2 linked regions of the Homo sapiens genome follow. The main gene of each other region encodes a partner of the protein of the gene in region 2 in a complex. Each region holds a gene or a part of one and is shown on either strand. Other genes may lie near its edges.

Region 1 (11,028 bases), on a different chromosome or scaffold from region 2:
CCAGGTAATGTCAGAGTACAGGAATGGTACAGATAGTAAAAGTTAAATCCCTAGTAAAGAGAGAGTGGATGGATAATCTGTAAACTTTGACACATACAGCTACTTTTCTGACAGAGGAAAGAATCTGACCACCTTCCTGGCATCTTCTAAGAAAGGCATAGGCAGGTCTATCTACTTCTTTTTCTCTTTTGCCTCATCACATTCCATTGTGACCTGTCTAGTTCTTCTGCACACTGTCATGCTTAAATGTTATTTCTCATGAACATATTTAGGTTTTCCTGAGGATATTTCTCAGAGTCCTGAGTCACATAATCAGGACAGCTGATTAGGCATAAGAGAGACTGATATCAAATCAGAGTTGAACTCTCAGGAGACTTCTGCTTTCTAGTTGTTAGAAGATGGAAAGTTATGTTTGTTTGGGCTTCAGGAATCAGAGCAGTTTGTTTTCCCTCCGTACCCCAGGATTGTCCTTCCAAGTCTCACCTTTTCCATCTCCCCTCATCTCCAGCGCTACCACCTACTCCCACTGTGCTGGCAGCAGACAATAAGGTTGACCAATTGCCTAGATTTTGCCTAAGTGAAAGAATTTCGGCACATGTACTGGCAATGAATCACATATCCTATCTTTAACCTTCTTATTTATGGATAAAGACACAAGTCTACAACTTGAACTGTGCACTTCCTGGGGCTCCTTTTGGTCATGCCCCTTGCTTCAGACCTTTCTTCTTGGCCCTGTTCTTTAAGATTGAAGTTGTTCATACTTCAAGGCTTGGCTACCATTGTTAGAACATTATCTGTCCATTTGAATTTCGGAAGAGTAAGGGCCTTTCCTCTTTAAAACGTTCCTCATTCTTTCTAGCCTTCCCCTCTCCTTCCCTCTGTTTCACCAATTCTGTTAACTATAGAAACCACCTTCCCAACCTGTCACCCGCTCCCCGAACTGTGACTGTGTACACACCATTTTATTCCTACTTTCTCCCATCTCTTGCCAAGAGGCCCATGGAAAGTTGTTCTACTACTCCTTGAGCCTGACCTGGTTACAAGCTTCTGGCCTACCACCCCATTTCTTCAGGAAATAAGGTTTAAAAATGGGCTTCCATACCATATTCCCCTTGGAAGTCACATTCATAAATTTATAGACCACATTTGCATATTATCAGTAATCATAATTTGTCTTACATTCAACATGTCTGTTGAATGTTTGCACAGTTGCATTTAATCAGATCTCTGCTGTCTTATTTGGGAATTGGCTCTCAAGTATAGCTTGCTTTGGAGAAGTGTGCCATAGGCTTGTATCTGTCTTTACCATTCAAGACTGGACTTACACGTAAATGTGCACTAAATAGCACATTTTAAAGTTTTTTTTAATGGAAACTATTTTGCTAGACCATACAAATGAATCAGGCAGGCTGTTAGAAGGCCCTGCCAGAGATCAAGTTTGGTGTGTCTGAAACTGTTGTGTTTGACCCTGAGGGACCTTGTGTGAACAGTTCTTGCTTAGGTTTCTACTGCTTTTCACTGATTTAGGATCTGCTGTGTTTTCTGTTGGTTAAAACTTGATAATAGTAAAACTTACAGCAGAATACTCGTCCAGAAAGATGTCTTATTGACGTTCATTTATTAAGCTGCTTTCTTTACTTCCATTTCAGATTTGTCCAATATGTGCAGCGTTACCTGGAGGCGATCCTAATCATGTCACGGATGACTTTGCAGCTCATCTTACACTTGAACACAGAGCCCCTAGAGATTTAATATCCTTTTAAGAGATGACAAGGAAAAGAGTTGTTTGTAATGTTTGTCATTTTGATTTTTTGTTTTGGAGACAAGATCTCGCTGTGTCGACCTGGCTGGTCTCAAACTCCTGAGCTCAAGTGATCCTCCTGCTTCAGCCTCTTGAGTAGCTGGGACTATAGGCACACATGTGCCACTGCATCCAGCTTGTCATTTTGATTTTTTTTAAGGATCATATCCCCCAAAAGAGGAAAAGTAATGTCCAAATTATTTTTACTTATTTGAACTTTTCCTAAAAGTGACTCAGTGCTGAGATGCAATTTATTTCTCTTTTTATATACTATCACCATTGTATGAACCATTTTCATTAAGTGAAAGTTGACTTGTCCTTCATCTTTAGTTCATTACAATTAGATTTTTTTTAAGGCAGTTTGACCAAATTGTGTCTTCCAGGATGGCGTTTTCATACAAAAGAGGAAAATGTTAATCCAAATTAAAATTTAATTAGTTAAATATGAAGAGGCATTATTTGCTTTCCCTCTCTGTTCCTCTGCTGCCTTACCCTGTTGTGGGTGTGGTGTGGTGAGATGGTGGGGACAGGTGTGCATCTTGGTGTTCCTTTCCTTTTTGGGGTCCCCTTCTCCAGAGAGAGCCATTTCCTGCCGAGTTCCTGAGTAGGATAGCATAAGGTCAGCTCTAGCTTTAAATTTCCTTTCCTGCTTTTCTTTTCTTTTCTTTTTTTTTTAAAAGTCGGAGTCTTGCTCTGTCAGCCAGGCTGGAGTACAATGGTGCTATCTTCAGCTTATTGCAACCTCCACCTCCTGGATTCAAGTAATTCTCCTGCCTCAGCCTCCCAAGTAGCTAAGATTACAGGTGCCCGCCACCACACCCAGCTAATTTTTGTATTTTTAGTAGAGATGGGGTTTCACCATATTGGCCAGGCTGGTCTCTTGGCCATGCTGGTCTTGAACTCCTGACTGCCTGCCTCAGCCTCCCAAAGTGCTGGGATTACAGGCATGAACCACTGCGCCTGGCCAATTTTTGTATTTTTTTAGTAGAGATGGGGTTTCACCATGTTGGCCAGGCTGGTCTCGAACTCCTGACCTCAGGTGATCTGCCCACCTCAGCTTCCCAAAGTGCTGGGATTCAGGCGTGAGCCACCACGCCCAGCCTCTTGCTTTTATTTCTGCATTCCCTTCCTTGTCTCTCAACAGTTTCTGGCAGTGTTCCCTGAGATTACTGGCCTACCAGAGCGATTAATTTTGTGGACTCAATGCTTCTGATTTCAGGTTATGAATTGTTCGTCTAAAACTGTCACCAGCTGGGTACAGTGGCTCATGCCTATACTCCCAGCACTTTGAAAGGCCAAGGTGGGAGGATCACTTGAGCCTAGAAGTTTGAAACCAACCTGGACAACATAGGAAGACCCCATCTCTACCAAAATAATGAGCTCAGCTGGTGGCACACACCTGTGGTCCCAGCTACTCAAGAGGCTGAGGTAGGAGGATCACTTGAGCCCATGAGCTCAAGGCTGCAGTAAGCTATGATTGCACCACTGCACTCCAGCCTGGCAACAAAGTGAGACCCTGTCTCAAGATACATATATATATGTATATATAATCATAATATAAAATTATCAAATATATAAATATGATCATATCACTTTCTCTAGAACCCAAACCATCCTCATGAATATGATGGAACAGGGCATGTACCGTGACACCTGAAGGCCTCTTGGAGCTACCCATCCGGTCCTTAAATAACTCCAGAACCATCAGCTGAAAAACTGAGAAGCCAGCCAAAAAATTAATCTGCATTATAAAGCTGGTCTGTTTGGTACTTTAAAGGAAAAATCTCTTCTATATGATCTGGCCTCCCCCACCTCTCATTTGCCTTTGTGGAAACGTAAGGTTGTCTTCATGAGTTTTGACAGCTATTTGCAACTCAGGACCTTTTTCAGTTTGACTTACACTCAGCTGTGTAAGACGGTTGAGGCTGCTGGGAATTTTTCTTCGTGATAAATGTCATGTTAATCTATCTGTGTGTCTTATACAAGAAATGCAAATCTGTTTTCTGCTTAGCAGCGGCATTGGAAAGAAGCTTGAAGACAGAGTAAAACTAATAATCCAAAAGGAACCTTTGATGTGCTGAATATACATTCAGTATTGTTCCTTTTTCATTATAGGTGGTATTTGAGATTTCATGAGCTATATAGAGAAACTTTTTTACCTCACACACCCAATACACACACACACACTCACATGTTGCCTTACATTTGAGTGTCTTTTTAGGGTTAATAGCCCTCATAGATAGAGTTGGGACATTTGCACTTTAAGTTAAATGTGCTGTTTTTAAATGCTTACAATTCAGGAAATCTTTACATCTGTCTAGCAAGGACTCAGGTGATTTTTTTTCTTTCTGTGAAATACTTTCGTTTTTTTCTTAACTTTTGGGTTATGATGAATCGAGTGGTGTTCGACATGTACGTAGAATGTTTCACCCTGGCCGGGGATTAGGAGGTCCTCGTGCTCGTAGATCAAACATGCACTTTACTAGCAGTTCTACTGGTGGACTTTCTTCTTCTCAGAGTTCATATTCTCCAAGCAATAGGGAAGCCATGGATCCTATAGCTGGTAAGTTAGTTTCACATTAATAAGGGAAATGGCAGGGGAAGGAGGAGCTCCTTTTAAAACTTTTTGTGATGCCAGGTGCGGTGGCTCACACCTTTAATCCCAGCACTCTGGGAGGCTGGAGCGGGTGGATCACTTGAGGCCAGGAATTCAAGACCAGCCTGGCCAACATGGCAAAACTCCATCTCTACTAAAAATAAAAAAATTAGCCAGATTTGGTGGTGGGTGCCTGTAATCGCAGCTACTCTGGATGCTGAGGCATGAGAATCGCTTGAGCCTGAAAGGTGGAGGTTCCAGGGAGCCGAGATCGCACCACTGCAGTCCAGCCTGGGTGATGGAGTGAGACCCTGTCTCAAAAAAAAAAAAAAAAACTTTTTGTGAGATTTGTGTTCTTAAGTCTCACCTCTCTGATCATAAGCCATGTTCCTTCACAAAATTCCCAAATACATTAAAAGTGTAAAATGTGTTAAAAGCAGACACTTAACATAAAGTAATTCATACTCTTCTGGCATTGCTTAAGTCCAGTAGTCCCCCCGTCATGTGGTTTTGCTTTCCTGGGTTTCAGTTACCCACAACCAACTACAGTCAAAAAATAGGTGAGTACAGGACAATAAGATACTTAGAGAGAGACCACATCACATAACTTTCATAGTATATTTTTAGATTTACTCTATTTTGTTGGGAATCTCATGTTCCTAATTTATAAATTAGGTGCCTAATTTATAAATTAAACTTTAGCACAACAGATAAGTATGTATAGGAAAAAACATAGTATGTATAGGGTTCTGTATTATCCAAATGCCCATTTCAGCCATTCACTGGGGGTTTTGGAACGTATCTCCTGCAGGTAAAGGGAGACTACTGTTCTTAGAGACAAAAGATGATAAGAAATGGTTTTATGTTGTATTTGTGGCCTCTATTGAAGCCCAAGGAAATCATAAAAGATTTCAACTTGAATACCTCCAAAATGTCATGGTTAAATCTCCATAAGTACACATAAAAAAATGTCCAAAGCACATTTGAAATTAAGGTTTTATAAGGTATAGCTAACATTTTTAAGAACATGTTATGTGTAAAATTCTGTCACAGATTTATGCCTATCTCAGATGTTGTGCAAGGCGCCTCATGGCTTCCAGGTACACATTCCACCACATGGACACATTTCAGAACTGTTATCTATAGCTAATTGAAAAGACTAAAGAATTAAGCTCTTCTCATGGAAGAAAGGAAAGTAGGACTTAATGTCCTGACCTTGATTTGAGAACTATATTGTTGTAGAACATACTGAAAGGTACATGTTTAATAGCTTGGGAAAAATCTTAAAAAAAAAAAAAAAAACACAGTTTTTGAACCTGGCCATGTCACTGAGTCTAGTACATGACAAACCTAGGAAGTTGGTAGCAGAACACAGGGTCAAAATAAAATACAAGAAATCACTGTAGCCTGATAATCTGCAAGACACACCAAGCAGACAAGTGGTAAGACAGTGGGAAGTGTGCACACATTTAAAGCAACAATTCTGAAATGTGTCCATGTGGTGAAGTGTGCACCTACCTGGAAGCCATGAGCACCCTGCAGAACACCTGAAACATTGATAAGTGTAAATCTGTAATAGAAACTGAGAACATCAGAGCTAAATGACAACTTAGGAACACAAAGGAGGAGACAGCAGACACTGGGGGAGGGTAGCAAGAGAGAGAGGAGCAGAAAGATAACTGTTGGGTACTGGGCTTAATTGGGTCCTGGGTGATGTAATAATATGTATGACAAACCCTCGTGGCAGGTGTTTAACTGTGTAACGGACCTTCACATGTACCCCCAAACCTAAAATAAAAATTTAAAAAAGAAAAACAACCTAAGAACAATTTTATACCTATCATGTTATTTAAAAGTTAGATATACCATATAAAATTTTAATTCCAAATGTGCTTTGGACATTTGTGTGTGCAACAACAAAAACAAGCCTAATAAACTGAGTTTGGGGGATTTAAAAAATATTTCTTCATCCAAAGGGAATATTTACCTGCTATTTTGGTGGCAGGCACTAAAAATTAAAGTAGTTTCTGGGAGCAAAATTCAAAATTGAGAAATTTTCTTCATTTGATTTTTTTTCTGTCAGTGAAAATTAGTTTATTTTAGTGATAGACTGTATATTCCATGAAAGAGTGGTATAAGAGTGCTATAAAAAGCCTGGGATAAAGCAACAGTGAGCAAGAAAACAAACTGTTAATGAGTTTTAATGATAAAGAGTTTTTGCTGGCCTGAAAGTGTCTGCAAGGCAGTCATCGATTCCCTATAAGCGAGGTGGACCCTCCACTTGGAAGAAGGCATTTCACTGTACCTTACTTAGATGAGGATGCGGGGACAAAAGTTTACACCTCTCTTAATGAGTACAGCCTTATGGACACAAGACAGTCTGGATCATAACAGGCCACTAAGTAGGCTGTACAGTCAGATGCAGCAGGTTCTCAGGAGCCAGTCAGCCTTGCTGAGCACTGGTAGTGGTATCTACTGCAGTGGTACTCTGAAACAGCAGTACCAGAAGGTACTAGAGGGAGAAAGCAGAGGCAGAGAGTGTGCAAGGGCCACCATCAGAAATGATCCAGGCCTCTTGGACTGAATCCTAATAATTCATTCAGTCATTCAGTAAATGTTTGAATTCCTGCTATATCAGGCCCTGTTCTGATAGCTGGGAATATAGTCAACAGTAGACCTCATCCCTGCTTCCATGGAACACATATTGAGAGAGCTTATATTATAATTGGGCCCACAGATAAACCACTTCATTAAATACTAAGAGAAAGCTTCACTAAATTAGTCTATTATGCAAATAATTTTAAAGACAATTTAAGTTTTACTTCAAACATAATTCAGTCTGGGTTAATATTCGTATGCATTTGCATTCTCTGTCCACAGTAACTCCTGCCTTCAGGAGGCATTCTAGAAGGATTCAGCTCTTAAACTGTGTGCTGTGGTGGTTACCTACCTGTTCACAATGCTTTTGATGTTGTTCCAGTAAAAGAGTGATCTGTAGCGTTTTGTTTTCCTCAGTATTAAGCAGACATTAATTGTCTTCATTTCCATTGGCAGAGCTTTTATCTCAGTTATCAGGAGTGAGACGTTCTGCAGGAGGACAGCTTAATTCCTCTGGCCCTTCCGCTTCTCAGTTACAACAACTGCAGATGCAGCTGCAGCTAGAACGGCAGCATGCCCAGGCAGCACGGCAACAACTGGAGACCGCACGCAACGCAACCCGGCGTACTAACACAAGCAGTGTCACCACTACAATCACACAATCCACAGCAACAACCAACATAGCTAATACAGAAAGCAGTCAGCAGACTCTACAGAATTCCCAGTTTCTTTTAACAAGGTAGCTCATTTGTTAATAGAATTTTGTTTGGGAAGTAATATTTTATTGCCACTACAGTCTGGAATTATCTTTTCTCTTTTGTGCATTATATTTCTTTAAAATTTTGTGTTTGATTAAAACTCACAGATCTCTGATTAAAACGCATATTCAGTATTTCCCCAAGAATGTGAAACATAGTAATTATTTTAGATAAATTAAGAATACTGGGCCAGACCCAGTGGCTCACACCTGTAATCCCAGCACCTCACACCTGTAATCCCAGCACTTTGGGAGGCCAAGGCAAGCAGATCGCCAGAGCCCAGGAGTTCCAAACCACCCTGGGTAACATGATGAAATCTTATCTCTACAAAAATGAGCCAGGTGTGATGGTGCGCACCTGTAGTCCCCGCTACTCAGGAGGCTGAGGTGGGAGGATCGCTTGAGCCCTGGAGACAGAGGTTGCAGTAGCCAAGATTGCACCATGCACTCCAGCCTGGGTGACAAGAGTGAGACCCTGTCTCTAAAATAAAATAACTGGTCTTGTTCTCAAGGTATATATCATCATATAATATGAATTGTTTTGCCATAGTACCCATAAAACTTAAACACTATATCATTATATATATATGGTTCATATTAGGTGTATTTATCATAATTAACGTTGCTTGTTATTGCCAGTTTTAATCTGCTTTGAAATATTAAAAGTATAAGAAGGATTTCATAATACAGTGGCAGTTTTCTCCTGTGAATTTCTAAAAAAGCTAGATTTAAATTTTTATGGTTGGCACACAAAAGTAACTTAAAAAAATGGCTTCCTATGGTATAAATAATATTTAGTAAAACAGTAAACTACTCTACTAGATGGAGTTCTTGTTTGCTTCTGAAACTGTTAGCAACTGCATGTATTTGTCTGCCAAAACTTCACAGGCATTTTATGTGACTTTTAGGAATATAAAGAATTCTTAAAAGAGCAATGATGAGTGGAGACTTAGCCTCAACAGATAATGAACCTGGACTAATTGGGCTTTTAAGGGAGCAGAGAGGAACATAAAGGAAGAACTGTAAAATGAAGAATAAAGTTTGTGTAATACATGATTATTTCCAAAATGCAGTGTGTATGACAATTCATTGGGATGTTAGAGGAAAATATTATAATTTCTACTTATGTTTCTTTTATCTCATACTCTGTTAATACAGTGGTGCATGTGTATAGTTATAAATAACATATTGTGGGTGCAGAATAAAAAATGCTTGAAAATCCCTGGGCTAGAGCCCCAGCTTTGCCAATTACAAGTTTTGGACCTCAGGCAAGTCATTTCACTCCTCCAAACCTCAATTTTATCATCAGTATCCCAGAAGTTTTGCCTTTAGAGAGATAATTATTTTGAGGATTAAATGGAATACTGGTATGTGTATGGTCTGGCTCACTATCTGGCCTATAGTAAAGGTCCAATTAATGGTACTCGTTATCAACATTTGTTATGAAACCAAGAAAAACATTTTAAATGGGTAATTTACCTTTGAATTATCTCTGCAAGGTCAGTAACTGTGCCTGGTTATTACCAGATAATGCTGCTTTAATGTAAGAAAACCACAGAGCCACAGATGGAGCTACCTGCTGCCATGTAGCCTTCCCCATAGGGACTGACCAGCAGCAGGTCTATAACATACCAGATCTAAGTCCCTACCTCAAAAAGGAGATCTACTAGCGTGCATTTCTACTGAGAGTTCACAGAACTGTGGGTGGAATGTCTTGCCAGTGCCCTTTGGAAAAGACATCTTCCTACCCACCCTTGCCCTATCCTTTTTTTTTTTAAGACCCAAACTACTCAGCTTGATCTGTAATTTTTTTCTGTGCATTTATTCCACACCCAACTCTCAGAGCATGGTATGAGTGACCTCTGAGTGCTGTCTGTGGATTCTGGTTGTAGCTTCTTGAAATCCCCCTTCTATCATCTGATACTGTACATTCTATGGTACCATGCAGTTTGCAAACCACTTTCCACATCTTTTATTGTATTATATTCATATGATTTATTTAAGGCAATATTTCCCCAGAAATACTCTCTTAACTTCATATATTCAAAGGAATATATGTAATTACTTATGTTCTTCCACCCCCAATTAATAAGGTTGCAGAAAGCAAAGTAAGGAAAATTAAGAGATTATTTACTGTTGGGCTTCTTAGAACTTCAAATATATTAACATGCATTGTGAATTTTCAAGGCAAGGAGAACGGCTGCAGTGTATGCAGGGGAGATCCTGCTCTCTGGTCACACAGCTCTTATGTGATATATATAGGGCCCAAGCCTTATTTTTGGTCTTTTCTTTGACCAGGGGCAGTTCCTATTCATGTTGCCCTGCAACTGATGGTAAGGTCACAGTTTCTTTGAAGTCCAAGATAGTTGACCTTTTAGAAAGTGATTATTGGAGTGTGTAAGTCAGATCGGTCTTTTTTTGAGATAGAATTTCGCTCTTGTTGCCCAAGCTGGAGTGCAATGGCACGATCTCGGCTCACTGCAACCACCGCCTCCCAGGTTTAAGCGATTCTCCTACTTCAGCCTCCCGAGTAGCTGGGATTATAGGCACGCACCCCCACACCTGGCTAATTTTTTGTATTTTTAGTAGAAATGGGGTTTCACCACATTAGCCAGGCTGGTCTCAAACTCCTGACCTCAGGTGATCCGCCCGCCTTGGCCTCCCAAAGTGCTGGGATTACAGTCATGAGCCACCGTGCCTGGCCAGATCTAATCTTTTGACAGTGGGACCAGTTCATTTTGCTAACCCCAACTTGAAGATCCTCACAAGCCTTGCAGTTTCATTTATATCCTAAATGTTATATTTCATCAAGAAATTTGTCTAGTCTCTGTGCAGATGAGCCAGGTTTCCCAGCATAGCCCAGATCTCATAAGTACATGCATCAGGGGAGCAAGTCAGGCAGGTAGACCTTGTGTCTGCCCTGCTACACTGTAGGTCCTTGGTAGAAGAAATGTAGGAGTTTGTATGTATGTGTTTTCTTGCCCTTTCTAGCTTCTGCATATACCAAGAAGAATTAAATAGAGTAATAGAGAAAAGTCAGAGGAAATCTTAGGATATTTTTCAGTTGAATATTCTGTTCACTGCAGATTTTGTTTTTGTGTTTTATTTTCCTCTTTTTATTTACCCCCAGATGAAATTCTGGTTAGATACTTTCCCAAGCATCTAATCTGTAAGAAATCCTGTTTTCCTTAGAAAATTTTCACCTAGCTTTCTCTGGAGTGGAAAAAGTCTAAATGTCTTTTTTTTTCTCATTGAGTCTAATTAAAGCATAGATTT
Region 2 (10,884 bases):
AGATGTCACTCCTCAGTGGCTAAGATTTGGCTGGGGATGTGGAGGCTTTCCTGAGCTAAGATGAGGGGGATAGCAGACTCACCTGCAATCTGCTCCTCAGTCAGCTGGTCAGCCTGTAAAAGCATGAAGGGGAAAGTCAGTCACCAGGCCGGACAGCACGGACGCATCTTCCTCACTCAGCCCAGACCCTCGGCCCCAGTGAGGCCAGCTCCACGTGCCATTCCCGCCGGGCCAGGGAGGAGCATGCCAGAGTCAGGGTCTGAGGCAGAGCCAGCGCCTGATGATAAAGTCTGGTGATTCAGAAAGCTGGGTACCAGGGTGGGCTGGACACTCAGGCCTGCTGGACGCACGGCCCGATGAAGCTGCCCAGACCCACGGGCTTCCAATCTCAACTCAGCATGTGGGAGCCACAGGGGCGGGAGAAAAGCCTGCCCCAGCCCCAAACCAGCAGCGCTGGTGAGGCCTGGCACAGGTTTGCATCTCATCAGTGAGAGCCCCAGAGGCCGAGTGAAGGGAACGATTGCCCTGGAGGCCTCATCAAGAAGCTCTAGAAGGCTCCAAACTGAAGCAGGCCAGTCCTTGGGTAGGGCAGAGGGACGATGTCTGGGGCTATCTCTGCTAGTTTCTGTGTCACCTATTTGGAGGCGGTTGGCTCAGGCAGAGTCCACCCAAGTGGCAAAAATTCTCCTAACCGGCGGCCCGAGTTGCTCAAGCACCTAAAGAACTCTGGTCAGGCTGGAGGCAGGCGCTCCACCCCCTGCGCACAGTGAGGGCACAGGGCCATTCTGTTTTGTTTCTTTTGGGCAGAAGGGACAAACGTCAGGGAGAGGGCTGCAGCGGGCAGCAGCAGAGGACTGAAGCTGGCTTGCACTGCAGTTTTTAACCCTTTCCAGCTTGGGCACTCTGGGGACTGGCCAGTGGGTGGCAGGCAGCCCTTGCTGCATGCGGGGTTTGGGGGTGGGGAGGAGATGCGGGGACTGGCTTCTCCTGCACTGGTGTGCTGGGCATCAGCCAGGCATAGTGATCCTATGGGGCAGGAGCGGGGCTGGGGGGTTGGGGAGGCTGAATCCCAACATTTAGCTTTAGCAGCCAAAAGACACATTTTCCCTGGTTTTTGTTGATGCTGTGAAGAAGGCACCACCATCCCGGGACCATGGTGGGTCTGTTCCCCTTCCTTTCACAATCAGGGAAAGGGGCTCCAAGTCTATAGCATGTTCTAGTCTCGAGTCTGAGAGCCTCAGAAATAGAAGCAGACTATTATGTGAATTTGCAGTATTCTACGGAGAGGTTCCAGAAGCTAGGAACAAACCACTGCCTGCCTCCCCTACCCCCATCCCCGTCCCAAATATTAACAATCACTGATCTAAAAAAGTTAGAAAAAAAAAAAAAAAACCTAACGGAAGAAGAACTTGCAAGCCCCAAATAGGCAGAATGGGAGGGGTAATCAAAATGATGATCACAGAGGGGAGAGGGCTTAGGGAGGGGGAAAGAGGAAGGGAGAAAACGGCACACATGCACATTCTGGAAAAGTCCAAAGTGTAAAGGGGAGGTGGGGAGGCCAAATGAAGATTCTTCTGCATTGCCTTCAAAAAAGACAGGGTGGTTGGGCTTCTAAATGCCAACCTGGTAGCCCCAGGCCCATGAGCCTCTTGATCCACCTGCCCCCCACCTCCCACCATGGACAAAAAAGCCTGGAGCCATCCCTTAGGTCCTGACACCTGAGGAAGAGGCTTAGGGAAAGTGAGAAGGGAGGATGGGCTTCTGGTTACCGAGACCAGGCAATGCCCAGGGAGGGTCAGGGAAAGAACAGAGAGGAGGGCAGCAGTGTGGGGAGGTGGCTGCCATCCCATCTGCTTTTCATTCTTTCCCCTGGCCTAGAATGGAAAAAGCGAGCCAGGTCAGGGCCTTCCCAGCCCACTGTTCCGCCCTGCAAGAAGTCCAGCTCCCCGGACCTTTGGGCAGCACTGTAAGGGGCTGGGGGTGGGGGCGAGGAGGCTGTGACAGGCTGCAGACTGCCCCGAGCGGCTCTGAAGGCCACCGTTTGCCAGTCTCCACCAAAAGACTGGAAGATGCAGATGAGGCACTGCCATGTTCAGTTCTGTCACAGGGTTGCTGCAAATAGGCGTGGCTCTGCATGGAGGGCCTGTCAGATGCTCTCCCTCCCATGTTGGAGACCCACTTCCCTGCTTGGTCAAGGAAAGGTACAGATCTCAAGCAAGGTTGCCGCCCAGAAAACCGACCGCCTAAGAAGATATCATTGATCCTTGCTCAAGGTTTCTTCCCTTTCTAGACCTGAAGACTAAACTTTCAACAAAAACTGTTTCCAAAATAACTCAGCTGGTCTCCTGCTTCCTTATCCCTCATCTTAGGCTCCAGCAAGGGGCTGGACAAGAAAAAAAACCATGAGGTGGGGGAGGGAAGAGGGTGTGATTTCTCTGCCTTGCCCCAGCCCCCAGCCAATGCCAGAGAGCAGTGTTAGATGAGATCAGAAACCAAGGCCAGGGCCCCTCACCCGGGCCAAGGAGGAGCCACAGAGCTCAGGCCAAAGTCCAAGGCCAGTTACCAGTGACTTGTCCCACCTCTACCTTGCTGATTACAAACAGAAAGAGAAACTAGTTGTGGCCAAAGCTTGGGTCCTATTCTGGAGGTAGGGGGCCTGCTAGTGCTTCAGGGCCCCTTTTAGCCAGGTTCTGCTGGGGGAAAATGGGGTAGCGGCAAGAGGAGCCATCAGGTCTGTGTCAGCAAGTATGAGATCTGATACACAGCAGCGGCTGCCTGTTCTCCCCAGCCTTGCCAGGGAGGATGGCTGCACACGGTTCCCAGGCTCAGCCTGGTGGGGCTGTGGGTGTTGTGGGTGGCAGGGAGTAGGAAAGAACTAGTCTGCTGGTTTTCTCTCAAAGCCCTGTGAATTAACAGACACGCTCAGCGAGGGCCCTGAATGGAACAAGTGGCCCTCAGGCCGATCAAGGGGTCTCCCCAGAGGCACTCTCTGATCAAGCTCTGCAGCCCCCACCCCGAGGGCACGGGAATAGGCATCTGATTGTCACTGACGCCACACTGTACTGCACTGTCATTTGGCACAAGTGACGAGGTGCAGCATGGTGCGTGGGGCTGGGGATCATGAGAAAACCGGCGCTCCTGCTGGGAAAAGGCAGTGCTCTTGGCCTGAAAAGGGCAGCGACAGAGTGAGGCTTCTAGGCTTGAAAAAGCTGGCTCATTCGAGGCACCCCAAACTTTGATCTCCCATCCCCATTTCATGAGGCTTCAGTGCGCAATAGGGGCCCGAACAGCTCCGCCCACCTGCTCCCACTGCCCCGGTGTCTTCCACCCAGCCGCGTTCTTCCTGAGGAAGGAGGACGGTAGAAAAGCTTCCTCCGGGCCCTGCAGCCCACTCCCCATCCACACTGAGCCGTCTTTGTCCTGGCCTGTCCCTGGAGACTGGCAGGGTGCTACCCACATCCACCCCCAAACCTAGGCCCCCCTGACTGCCATTCATTTTCTCCTTCCACCTCACCTCCCAACCACCCAAGCCCAAGTCCTCCCCCACCCCTCACCTTGGAAATCCATCTTCTCTTGGACCCAAACACAACACTCCCACCCCGTTAAAAAAATTCTGTCTTTCTAGAGCAACAGTCTTAACCCACTAGTAACCTCGGAACCTTTTCTAGCTACTTCCAAATTAACCCCAAGGGTCCCTGTCCCCCGACTACTGGCGAGCCCCACTCTCACCATCCCTTTTCACCACCTCCACGACCCTGATCCTTCTCCGTCCCGGAAGCCTTCAAGAGTATCTTCTAATCTCCGCTGCCACCCACCCCAGGCTCTTCCTCCCATAAGCTTGCACCTCACCCTCCTCCTCCTCTGCAGTGCTGGGCTCTGGAGACCACCCTCCCCCACCCTCCCCCACCCTCGGGAGTCTCATCTGTAGAAGTGACCGCCCATCCTTGACCCTCTCCTCTGCTCCACAGGAGCCCAGGGGTCGCCCCTCCCCGCCCGGGCCCAGCTACCCTCCACCACCCCATCCAGGAGCAGCCCAGCCTCCCTTCGTCCCCCGTTCCCCGCATCCTCTCAGGACCAAACGCCTTCATCAGGGCCCGAATAGCTCCCCTCCCCAGCCCATCTTTCTTATTTCGTCCCCTGGGGTCCAAACACCTCCATCCTGAAACCCAACGCCCCATCCTGGGTCCAAAATCCTTTTGAGGGGTCCCACTGAGGGTCCCGATCCTCCATCCGGGGTTCAAATGTCCCCTTTAGGGGCTCAGATACCCATTTGTGGACTTAAACATCCCATTTGGTGCTAAAGTCGCTTCTGGAAACCTCTGGTGATCCAGACGTCCCGCTCTGGGTTCAACAGCCCCCGACAACGCGGGTAGAAAAGGGTCCCGAGGCTCTCGCCGGGCCCGGACGCCCCCCACTCTGGGCTCTGTCGCCCCCTCAGGGGTCCTGCCCCGTTAAGCCCGCCTCAGAGCCCGCAGCCTCGGCGACCCCCCAGCCTCACTCACCATGGCGAGGCCCGGGGTGTCCGGAGCACGGGGATCAAGGTTCCTCCGGCGGCGGCAGCAGCTGCAGCAGTTCCAGCTCCGCCGCGCGTCCGCGCCTCCACACTCACTGCCCGCAGCGCGCGCCGCCGCCGCCGCCGCCTCCCGCCCCAACGGTCCCTCAACGGCCGCCGCGCGCGCCCCGCCTCGCTCGGCCCCGCCCCACCCGGCCCGCGCGCCGCCGCACTGCGGCTCCCACGGATCCCTCCGCGCCCCGCTCCACACCTACGGGCCCGCGAATCTCTCGTCCCCACCCTGCACAGGAATTGGGTTTGCCGCCGGGCGCGCGCGCGCTCGCTCCCGTCGCCGGACTACTTTCCCTCGCCGCGCGCCCCGCCTCCCGGGCCCACTTCACTTTCTTCGGCGGAGGGGCACAGCTCGGCGGTGCGTGACGCGTCCCTCTGTGAGCCGCGTCACTATTGGGCCTGGCCCATGGCGGAAATGAGAGCTTGGCGCCCATTGGTCCGACCTTCCCTGCAATGCGTCAAACTGGGGCGAGCCACTGCAAGGTGGTGGTGGGTAAGTCTGAACTCTGTGGCCGCGTGGGGCTTTGAGGAGTAACGAGGCGAAGGGGGAAACGGCGTCGCCGTTAGAGAAGCAAATACGTCGTTTCTGTGGCCAGGAGGTGGTAAAAAGGCTGGCGACAAATGCAGAAGGGCTTTCTCGGCTCTCCCCTTTAACCGACGGACGATGGTTCAATCCAAAATGCTAGGGTTTAGAAGCTCCGCCCCTAACTGGGCCTTTGGAGGTGGCGGGGTCTCCAAGGTGCCACCTAACGCTCAGAGGTTCCGCCCTCCGTGGTCTTGTCTCTGCGTCCTAAGACGCACTCAGCCGGTGGGCGGGACCCCTGGGCCCGCTTCATTCTTGATCCGCTCAGGGTCTGTGAAATTAGGACCATCCCAGGACAGCCTGTGGGAACGGGGTATTCATTCAGTCATTCGTGCTATAAGCATCAATTAGGCGCCTGCTGTATGCAGGGACCTGAGCTTGGCTGGGCTGGGGAGACCATACTCCCCAACCAGCCTCTCCAGACAGACGACCTCTTTCCTTATTCCAGTGTTCCAGCCATAGGAGGAAAAAGAACTGAAACTTTGTTTATAGGAGCTCAGAAAATGATCACCCCTGCCCCCTCCCCCGTTTAGGATAGGAGCTGACAGTCTCCTGCGTGTCCCCTCCCCACCATGTTGATGGTTAAGAGATGGGCAAACGAGTCAGGCTGGACCAATCATTATGCTCCACCTGGAACAGAATGGAGACTGAACCAATGAGAGTCCTTCCCTGGGGTTTGGATCTGCAGCCTGGGCACAAGAAGCCTTTTCCTTTTGGGTGGGTCCTTCCCATAGATTCTGACTATGGTCATTTTCCCACTCTGCCCCCTATCTTGAGGAACAAAGTGTCTAGAGAAGAAGAGAAAAATAAAACTGACACAGTGGAGAGGTAAAGAAGATGGCCGGGCGCGGTGGCTCATGCCTTTAATCCTAACACTTGTTACTCAGTCTCAAATCTCATGTTAAAATGTGATCACCAATGTTGGAGGTGGGGCCTGGTGGGAGGTGTTTGGGTCATAGGGGTGGATCCCTCATGAATGACTTGGTGCTGTCCTCACGGTAACAAGTGAGTTCTTATTCTGTTAGTTCACACAAGATCTGTATTTTTTTTGAGACGGAGTCTTGCTCTGTCACATAGGCTAGAGTGCAGTGGCATGATCTTGGCTCACTACAACCTCCGCCTCCCAGGTTTAAGCGATTCTCCTGCCTCAGCCTCCCAAGTAGTTGGGACTACAGGCACCCACCACTACACTTGGCTAATTTTTGTATTTTTAGTAAAGACAGGGTTTCACCATGTTGGCCAGGCTGGTCTCAAACTCTTGAGCTCAAGTGATCCGCCTGCCTTGGCCTCCCAAAGTGCTGTAATCACAAGAATACAACCATCAGGAGTGCCTCAAGGGAGAAATATCCTCTGAGAATAGCCACAGACAAAGTGGGGAGGTGGGACTACCATCCCCAGCCCTGGAAACTCTCTCTACTCTATAACTTGGCCAAAGGAGATGCCAAATCAGAGTGGCTGTTCGTTAGCACCATGCTGTGGGAGGTTTCTTCCATAGCTCCCCTGGGAATGAACCCCTAGCCAGCTTTCCTATGCTACTGGGATATCCCCTTTGGGACCTCCCCCATTCGGGATGGGAGACGCTCTGATCTTTAATAGAGCCAAGGCAAACCTGGTTTTAAGGTGCCACTGAGTGCTAAAAAGGAGGCAGCAACCTAGCAGAAAAAAAGAAACCAACAGGTCAATTACGAAGAATCTGTAAGCAAATGGAGCCAGTAAAAGCCAAAACAAGCCAGACGGAGAAGGCTGGAATAAGTGACTAATCCTTCAGTGCAAAGGCATAGATGTACATTAACAACAAACCAAAGCAAACAGGGAACCATGAGCTCCCCAAATGGACCAAGTAAGGGACCAGTGACTAAACCTAACAAGACAGTAATATGTGAGCTTTCTAAGAATTCAAAATGGCATTTTTAAGGAAACTCAGTGAATTCCAAGACGACATAGAAAAGCAACGCAGAAATTTATCAGTGAAATTTAACAAAGAGATTGAAATAATAATTTAAAAAAAACCCAAACAAATCTTAGAACTGAGAAATACATTTGCTGAACTGAAAAGTTCATTAGAGGTTCTCAACAGCAGAGTGGGTCAAGCAGAGGAAACAATCAGTGAACTTGGAGACGGGCTGTTTGTAAATACATACAGAAGAAAAAAGAAAAAAGAATGAAAGGAATGGAAATCACCTACGAAATATAGAAGACAAAATCTAAGAATTATTGGTGTTCAAGAGGGAGCTGAGGAGGAGCAAGGGGATAGAAAGGATATTCAAAGAAACAATGGAAGACATTCAAAAATTGCAAATATCCAGGTACAGAAAGGCCAGAGAACACCAAATAGATTTGATTACCCCAAGGCATATAATAATCAAACTCTCAAAGGTCAAGAACAAAGAGAGGATCCTAGAAACAGTAAGAGAAAAGAAGGAAATAACACTTAAAAGAGCTCTAATTTACCTGGCCACAGACTTCTCAATCAAAACCATGAAGGCCATACAAGAATACTGTATCAAGCAAAGCTATTATTCAAATATGAAGAAGAGATAAAGTTTTTCCCAAATAAAAGCAGAGAGAATTCACCACTACCAGATCTGTATTATAAGAAATGCTCTCTTGAAGAAAGACAGTTCCAGAGAGTTCCTCAATCCGGAAAAAAAAAAAACCATGCAAAAAGAAAAAAAATTTTTTTTGAGACACGATCTTGCTCTATCACCCAGGATGGAGTGCAGTGGCCCAATCATAGCTTACTGCAGCCTCAAACTGCCAGGCTCCAGTGATCCTCCCACCTCAGCCTCCTGAGTAGCTGGGACTACAGGTGCACACCACCATGCCTGGCTAATTTTTGTATTTTCTTTCTGGTAGAGATGGGGTTTTGCCATGTTGCCCAGGCTGGTCTCGAATTCCTGAGCTCAAGCAGTCTTCCCCCATTGGCCTCCTAAAGTGTTGGGATTACAGGTGTGAGCCATCATTCCTGGCCAAAGAAAATATTTGAAGGTATAAAACCCATTGGTAAAATTAGGTGCACAGAGAAACCCAGGATACTCCAATACTGTAATTGTGGTATGCAATTCATTCTTAACTCTACCATAAAGCCTCAAAGACAAATCTATCAAAAACAATAATATTGAGCTGGGTGTAGTCTCAGCTACTTGGGAGGCTGAGGCAGGAGGATCACTTGAACCTAGGAGTTTGAGGCCAGTCTGAGCAACACAGTAAGACCCCATAATTAAAACAATAATAGCTATAGCAGCTTGTTAAAAGACAAGCAAAATAAAAATATGTAAATTGAGGAAACAAAAAGTCAAAATGTGGGAGGGAAGGAGATAAAGTGTGGAGTTTTTATTCATTGTTTCTATTTTTTTCTTTGTGATCTAAGATGTTATCGCTTTAAAATAACTTGTTATAAGATTTTTTTTAGAAGCCTCAAGGTAACCACAATGCAAAAACCTATAATAGATTCAATAAAAATAAAAAGTAGCAAGTTAAAACGTACTACCAGAGAAAATCACTTAACCACAAAGGAAGACAGTAAGAAAGGAAAAAAGGGGGCCAGGCACGGTGGCCCACACCTATAATCCCAGCACTTTGGGAGGCTGAAGCAGGCGGATCACCTGAGGTCGGGAGTTCGAGATCAGCCTGACTAACATAGAGAAACCGCTTCTCTACTAAAAATACAAAAAATTAGCCGGGCGTGGTGGCACATGCCTGTAATTCCAGCTACTCGGGAGACTGAGGCAGGAGAATCGCTTGAACCTGGGAGGCGGAGGTTGTGGTGAGCCGAGATTGTGCCATTGCACTCCAGCCTGGGCAATAAAAATGAAACTTCATCTCAAAAAAAAACAAAAAACAAAAAACTTGTTATAAGATTTTTTTATAAGCCTTAAGGTAACCACAATGCAAAAACCTATAATAGATTCAATAAAAATAAAAAGTAACAAGTTAAAACATACTACCAGAGAAAATCACTTAACCACAAAGGAAGACAGTAAGAAAGAAAAAAAGGGGGCCAGGCATGGTGGTTCACGCCTGTAATCCCAGAACTATGGGAGGCCGAGGGAGGCGGATCACTTGAGGTCAAGAGTTCGAGATCCACTTGGCCAACGTGGCAAAACCCCGTCTCTACTAAAAATACAAAAATTAGGTGAGTGTGGTGGTGGGTGCCTGTAGTCCCAGCTACTCGGGAGGCTGATGCAGGAGAATTGCTTGAACCCGGGAGGCAGAGGTTGCAGTGAGTCGAGATCGCGCCACTGCAGTCATGACTGGGCGACAGAGCAAGACTCTGTCTCAAAAAAAAAAAAAAGAAGGAAGAAAACAACCAGAAAATAAGCAACAAAATAGCAGTAGTAAGTCCTTACTTATCAATAATAACATGAATGTTAAGGAAATAAATTATCCAATTAAAAGGCATAAAGTGGCTGAATGGATAAAGAATAAGACCCAGGCCAGGCATGGTGGCTCATGCCTGTAATCCAAGCACTTTGGGAGGCCAAGGCAGGAAGATTGCTTGAGCTCAGGAGTTGGAGACCAGCCTGGGCAACATAGTGAACCTCGTCTCTACCAAAAAAAAAAAAAAAAAAATTTGCTGGGCGTGGTGGCTGGCGTGCACTTGTATTCCTGACTACTCAGGAGGCTGATGTGGGAGGATCACTTGATACTGGGAGGCGGAGATAGCAGTGAGCCGAGATTTCCCCACTGTACTCCAGCCTGGGCCACAAACCTTGTCTCGAAAGAAAAAAGAAAAAAGGCCCAACTCTATGCTGTCTACAAGAAACCCAGTTCACCTATAAAGACACACTTAGACTGAAAGTGAAGAGTTAGAGAAAGATATTCCGTGCAACTGGAAACCAAAAAAAAAAAAAAAAAAAAAAGCAGGGGTAGCTATACTTGGTATCTATATATGGTATCAGATAAAAGAGACTACAATTCCAAGCTTGTGAAAAGAAACAGAGCAGGTCACTGTACAATGATAAAGGGGTATATTCAGTGAGAGGATAACACAGTTGGTTTTTTTTTTTTTTTTGAGATAGAATCTCGCTCTGTTGCCCAGGCTGGAGTGCAGTGGTGCGATCTTGGCTCCCTGCAGCCTGGTTCAAGCGATTCTCCTGCCTCAGCCCCCGAGTAGCTGGGACTATAGGTGCTTGCCACCACGCCTGGCTATTTTTGTATTTTTAGTAGAGACAGGGTTTCACTGTGTTGACCAGGCTGGTCTTGAACTCCTGACCCCAAGTGATCCACCCACCTCAGCCTCCCAAAGTGCTGGAATTACAGGCATGAGCCATTGAGCCCGGCCTGTTTAATTTTTGTATATGGTGAGAGCTACAGCTCTAGTTTCATTCTTCTACGTACAGTTTTCCGATTTTCTCAGCACCATTTATTGAAGAGATTGTTCTCCCCCCATTGTATGTTGTTGGTGCCTTTGCTGACAATGAGTTGGCTGTAAATGTGTGGATTTATATCTGGGTTTTCTATTCTGCTCCAGTGGTCTACATGTCTGTCTTTATGCCAGTATCATGCTGATTTGGTTACCATAGCTTTGTCGTCTATTTTGAAGTCACGTAGTGTGATGCCTTTAGCTTTGTTCTTTTTGTTCAGGATTGCTTTGGCTATTTTGGGGTCTTTCGTGGTTCTGTGTAAATTTTAGCATTGTTTTTTCTATTTCTGTGAAGAATGTCGCCGGTATTTTGATAGGGATTGCACTGGATCTGCAAATTCCTTTGGGCAGTATTGTCATTTTAACAAAATT

Evidence for each region.
Region 1: CALM3 (region 2) and KCMF1 share a complex: the UniProt entries of both Homo sapiens proteins name them as parts of the SIFI complex.

Annotation. Positions count from the first base shown.
Region 1 is NC_000002.12:85,041,915-85,052,942, forward strand, and holds part of KCMF1 (E3 ubiquitin-protein ligase KCMF1), read left to right. Parts: intron 1-1,649; coding exon 1,650-1,751; intron 1,752-4,189; coding exon 4,190-4,364; intron 4,365-7,451; coding exon 7,452-7,734; intron 7,735-11,028. UniProt on the Homo sapiens protein: E3 ubiquitin-protein ligase which accepts ubiquitin from an E2 ubiquitin-conjugating enzyme and then transfers it to targeted substrates, promoting their degradation by the proteasome.
Region 2 is NC_000019.10:46,595,056-46,605,939, reverse strand, and holds the start of CALM3 (calmodulin-3), read right to left. Parts: upstream 4,611-10,884; 5' UTR 4,506-4,610; coding exon 4,503-4,505; intron 3,872-4,502; exon of another isoform or gene 3,733-3,871; coding exon of another isoform or gene 3,730-3,732; intron 3,344-3,729; exon of another isoform or gene 3,301-3,343; intron 114-3,300; coding exon 83-113; intron 1-82. UniProt on the Homo sapiens protein: Calmodulin acts as part of a calcium signal transduction pathway by mediating the control of a large number of enzymes, ion channels, aquaporins and other proteins through calcium-binding. Calcium-binding is required for the activation of calmodulin.